2 linked regions of the Homo sapiens genome follow. The protein of the gene in region 2 purifies or fractionates together with the protein of the main gene of each other region. This does not show direct contact. Each region holds a gene or a part of one and is shown on either strand. Other genes may lie near its edges.

Region 1 (3,500 bases), on a different chromosome or scaffold from region 2:
CACTGTACCCAGCTGGTAAATTTTATGATATAGTTAAAAAAAAAAATCTCTCCTCACTAGTAAAACCAAATGTGATCGGGAAGAGTATTTTAGAGCTGGAAGTCAGCTCAGAAGCAGGCCAGTGCAAGAGTCTGTTCTACATGTTCCAGACAGGTGGCTGTGGCTCTGTTTAACTCCAGAGAATGCAGTATACAGCCTCAGGAGGATGCCCTTTTCTCCAAGCATGAAGCAGAGCCATGAACGCCACTTAATCTAAGTCCCCACGTATTGCCCTGCAGATCCCACCACCACTGCTGATGCCTTTCCTGCAGAAATAATTGATCCCGGCCTCCAAATATGTGAAGGGGGCCACTGTGCTGCCCTTAGCCATCCACTTTCAAGGAGGAAGGCCCTCCTCCCAATGTCACTCTTCCTCTTAACTTCTAGTTTTGCTCCCTTCCTGGTGTCCTCACCAAATGTGTCCCAGAGTATCATGACCTCCCTCAAACTTAACCCCCAGACAGGCTTTGGTAGGGCCTGACCTATAAGACCAGGCACCAGCATTTCTCAGGAGCTACATGTGCTCATTAACGCAGAATTTGCCCTTTAGTTTTAGACTTTTTTTTTCCTCCAAAATACACTGAAAGATTGCACTGGATTTCTGGCCACTGCAGCTACCATATGTTCTGTTTCCACATTGCTAGTAACCTGTGGGACCTGGTAATTATCCTCATTGCCTTTCCTCTGCTTGGCTTTAGCGCTGCATCATTACCACCACCTGCAATCTCAACTCTGCCATCTCTCAGGCTTTCCCACGGTTATGGCTCTTGCAAAGGTTAAAGAAGGAGAATTACAAGAACCTTTGCAAACTGCAGATTAAAATCAGGATAAATCCCTCCTTGGCACCTTCCCAGAAGACTGTTCCCCAGATTTAAATATCTGCTGGCTGCCCAGAGCCAAAATCCAAACCCCTTAATGTGGCATAACAGAAGTATCCTGAATCGAGGCACTCTGGTGGAGGCTAAGGGCTTGGGCTCTGGAGCTAAACTGCCTGCAAACACAGCTTCTAGCTCCTCCAAGCTCCAGTCCTTCCTGTGCAGCCTCAGGCTAGTTACTTGCCCTCTCTGGGGCCCCATTTCTTCACCTATAAAACAGGAGTGATACCAGAACCTATGCCTCTTGGGTTGTTGTGAGGCTGAAGAGAGAAAGCTCATAGCGAGTACCTGATAAATGTTACTTATCGTTATTCTCATCACAAATATTACAATTGCTACTGCCACTATGATTTCAAGTTCCCTTTCCAAAGTATGTGAGATCATGTTGTGCTGCAAATAAATGCCACTGATGACAATGCCATTGCTCCTAGAACAAAGATCAAGCATCTACAATGCCCTGCACTGGCTTCTTCTCCCTCCCTCCCCATTCAGACCTCTCCCACTCTTCTCCCTTCCGTGTTCCTGGACTGGTTCCTGAAACCACTATGGGATCTTGGCTCAGGCTGTTACCCTGCCTGCTCGCACTTCTCCCCCTCTTGTCTGAGTGAATTCTGGCTCATCCTCCAGCATCCACTCCACTCCAAAGGAAGCTTTCCCTAGACATGCACAAGCCAACCCCACTGTCACTGCAGATACAGGCTGGCCTGGAACCAGGCACCTTTTGTCCATAGTCCTTCACACAGTTGGTAATCACATCTATTTGGAGTTCACTTAAGGTCTTGTCTTCCAGGACTAGATCACAGTGTCCAAGAAGAAAGGGATATGTTTATTTTGTTCCCATTATAGCACTGTCCCCCACACATCATAGTGGCTCAATGAACAGTTATAGAGTGAATGACTGAATTAACATCCCTCCTGCTGCCCCACTCTCTGCACTATACAGGGTCACTCACCACCACCAAATACAGCACCTTTGAATCTCTGTGCCCTTCCTAACACTGGCCTCTTCTTCTGGTAGTAACCTGTGTGTCTGTCCCTGAGCCAGCTCCCTCCATCCCGGCCACATGTTTACAGTACAGAATGACCCAGGGTGCTTGCCTGGCCCCTATCTTACATGGGGCTTATTCAGCTTTTTGTGGTCAGAATATTCCTGGCCTATTAATCCAGCGTTTAACATGCACAGGTATATCAGCTGCATGTAGTTGACTAAAACCTGTTTCAGGTGTTTTTCTTTACCATAAGTGTTTTCCATGAGATCACTAGTGAAGCTTTCGAGCTGGCTCTGGGAGAACAAGGTGGCACCTGCATGGTCAAGATAGACAGTTCCTGAAAGAAAACACAAAATAAATACTAAAATTTTACCTGAATCTGGTTTGTGTAAGCCCAACCAATGTCATCTAATGCATGCAGACGTAACATCAGGCCACTGACTTGTGCCTCTTGATATGTGCCTCTTAATCCAAGTGTAGGCATGAGCAGTGGAAGGACTGCACTTCTAATGCTGAAGGACTTTTAAAGCACTGAGAGAGCCCTCCTGATTAATCAGCTCTCTTCACTCTTTTGTGAACCTGGAACAGCATCCCACACAGAGAAGACGCCCAGCAGACATTCGTGATGAATGATGGCAAAGCTGTTTCACATTGTCACTCACAACCTATTCTGGAGGTTCTGGGAGGAGTCCCTGAGGGGAGAGCCCTGATCCTACTTTCCCACACTGCTCTGCACCCCTCAACACTAATGCAGCTGCAGAGCTTCCAAGAATACAAGGAATGCAAATGATCCATCCAACCTCTCTCTGAGAGAAATGCAAATTTAGATGAAAATGAGATACCGCGGATTACTGATCAGATTGGCAGAGATCAGTGGTTGGATTCCTCACTGTGTGAATGAAGCTGTGGCGAAACAAGCTCACTGGTACACGGCTGGTAGGAGGGTACACAGGTACACCTTTATGCTCAGCAATTTGGCAACATCAGTTCATGCTTTAAAATGTACACACCCTTTGACCTAGCAATTCCACTTGCAGGAATTCATCTTACAAATACCCACACTTTTGTGGAATGACCTGAATATAAGGCTATTCGACGAACTATTGCCTGCAATAGCAAAAGATTGGAAACAACTTAAATATCCATCAATGCGCTTTTAAAATAAACATTGTACACTAATAATAAGTACTGACATGAAACAAACTCTGAGATACACTTTCAAGTACATATAATGTGAAGAGATCCATTCATTCACTTATCAAATATTTTGTTTTGTGTAGAATGGGTTGTTTTATCACAGCTTTATTGAGATATAACATAAAATTCACTCTCTTAAAGTATACAATTCAGTGGTTTTTAACATATTCATAAAATTACATAAATACCAATTTTAGAATATTTTCATTCATTCCCAAAAGAAATCCCATATCATTACCAATCACTCCCCAATGCCTCCAACCCCAGCCCTTGATAACCACTAATCTACTTTCTGCTTCTCTAGATTTGCCTGTTCTGAACATTTCATGTAAAAGGAACCATACAATATGTGGCCTTTAGTGTCTGACTTCTTTAATTTAGCATAATGTTTTCAAGGTAC
Region 2 (2,439 bases):
TGTTGGCCAGGCTGGTTTCTAACTCCTGACCTCAGATGATCTGCCCGCATCGGCCTCCCAAAGTGCTGGGATTACAGGCGTGAGTCACTGCGCCTGGACAGAAATAACTAATATGGTGACCAATTTGGACCAGGATGTGGGCTTCCCTACGGTAGGCAGCTTAACAAGGTCCTTTCCAGACAAGTCGTTGTGCCTGCAATTTTCCTGGATCTTTAAGTTACTTAACATTTCTAAGTCTTAATTCCTGTGGCACTAAAATGGGGGAAATCACTTCAATGATTCGGAACAAGAAATCAAATATACGTAAAATGGCTGGTACATGGTACACAATGAATATTCATTCTCTTCCTCCAAACTTTAACATATCACTTACTATATAAATATCCAATTGTCTTTTGTTCAAATATCTTAAAATTTGTACAGCAGAAGAGTATGATTTTACATATAACAAACAGCTTAAATAAAGAACCAGGAGCTTTTTTTTTTAATCTGAAAAACAGTTTTGCCACAATTCTTCAAATGTTTTTATTGGATTTAAAATTCATTTAAGGGGTATACAGATATACAACTAGTTTGATCAGCTACTAATATATTTTGGTGTCCCTTTATTTTTGTACCCAAGAGCCAGTTCACTTTTTCTCCATGTTCAATATTTAGCTTTGGTAAAATGTTGCCATGTTCTTCCTCATCTGTTACTGAAGCGTTAGTATTTCCACCCTGCTTGGTGCAAGTTCCTCTTTTAGGTTTCTTCCTGTGGGTACGTTTTGTGGGACTCTTCTGTTTTTTCTCAACTTCACTGTTTGCATCCCACAACGTGATCTTCCCATCATTCCCTCCAGTAAGCAGCAAATAGGATTCTGGGAGAAAGCAGACCTGGGATACCCCTGAAGTGTGGCCCTTAAATCCCAGTTCCTGTTCACACTTAACTCCCATCACCCGAAAGATTCGAACCTTACCATCTTCTGCACCACAACTAAAAATATTACCACACGAAGCCACAGAGATAGAATGGGCTAGGGCAGGGTTTAAGAGCTGACCAGGTGACTGTGGGCCTTCCATTTCTTCTGTTTCATCCTCCTGTAAATTTGTAATCCAGAGTGGTCGGGCTTTTTGAAGACTCCACAGCATCACCTTTACATAAGAAGAAATTACACAGTCATACAAAATGCTAGCCAATTTGCTCAACTATCATGCTTATTCAGCTTCTAATAAAATCGTTAAAGTAGTCTGAGAATGAGCAGTAGTGCACGTTCTCAGCAGTATTAAAAAATAATCAAATGCTGCCATAACATGCCAGTGGAATGCTACCCCGGGACTAAAACTAGAGTGCGGTTAGGTAGAATTAAACAAGATCCTGAATAATTTTTGATTAATAAACTCCATTAAAGTGTAATTGTTAAGCAGCTGCCAGTTTCTAAAGGTTTTTCTGCTCTCATCTCTTCAAGTAAAACCAAAGATTATCAAATTTGCTAGTTTTAGTCTATGCTGGTTATAGGTCAAAAGGCCTATCAACTAAATAAACTCGATCTGGACTATCATTGAAATGCTTTCCATCTGGAATGCCTTCCTTTCCTTTCACATTACCCAATTACCCATCCAAGGGGCTTAAGCTCAGTCCTGGTGCCTCCAAGAAGGCTTTCCTATTTCAGCCCGCTTCTCCTTCCTGTATCTAGTTTCTATTCTATTAATTGACATATTCTACTAGCTTATCAGTTTCTTGAGACTTACTTAGTCTTTGCTAATGCCTAGCATAATGGCTGAGAAAGAGGAGAAATTCCAAACATGTCTGTTGATTAATATGACATCCTGGTATTAATTTCATTTGGCTTTTCGTTGTTCCCGACCTGGTGCTTTTTGTTTTTTTTAAATAAGCTTTGTGAATGGGTTTTACATTATCATCTAGTGATTCATTCTTTTCCTGTATCAACCATTTTGCAAAGAAAAATACTCTTAATACTTTCAAAGCAAACAGACAGCTTTATCATGTAGTTTACCATCATCCCTGAATTATAACTCACAATTTTAACAGACACTGGAAGAAGCATGAGCTTGTTTAGACAGTGAAAAGCATAGATCTGAATTGGCAAGATTACTATTGCTAATGCTATTAAGAATTTGGTTTCCTATTCAAGGTAACTTCCCTTATGATTATTCTCAGTGGCCTATTTTCAAAAGCAGTGACATCTAGTAACACTTACATTCTGCTTCTCTTAGATGAAAATCTCTTTGAATTGGATTTATAACATTATACTATGTGACTAACAATCACTGTTTGGGTGAAGTTAAAGTACGAACAAATTGAAATAAGCTAAAGTAAAATAAATAAATATTAGAAAATATAACACGAAGGAGTGCTGAAACTTGATATGAAAATAGTTTTTTTTTTAAAAATAGGGTCTCACTTTGTCACCCAGGCTAGAGTGCAGTGGCATGACCATG

The links. Proteins that work in one complex are often made in the same cells at the same time.
Region 1: the proteins of WDR53 (region 2) and MOCOS purify together in Homo sapiens (affinity purification with mass spectrometry; one large-scale study listed by BioGRID and IntAct). This does not show direct contact.

What each region holds. Positions count from the first base shown.
Region 1 is NC_000018.10:36,193,997-36,197,496, reverse strand, and holds part of MOCOS (molybdenum cofactor sulfurase), read right to left. Parts: exon of another isoform or gene 3,190-3,500; intron 2,241-3,189; coding exon 2,151-2,240; intron 1-2,150. UniProt on the Homo sapiens protein: Sulfurates the molybdenum cofactor. Sulfation of molybdenum is essential for xanthine dehydrogenase (XDH) and aldehyde oxidase (ADO) enzymes in which molybdenum cofactor is liganded by 1 oxygen and 1 sulfur atom in active form.
Region 2 is NC_000003.12:196,553,677-196,556,115, forward strand, and holds the end of WDR53 (WD repeat-containing protein 53), read right to left. Parts: intron 1,132-2,439; coding exon 535-1,131; 3' UTR 501-534; downstream 1-500.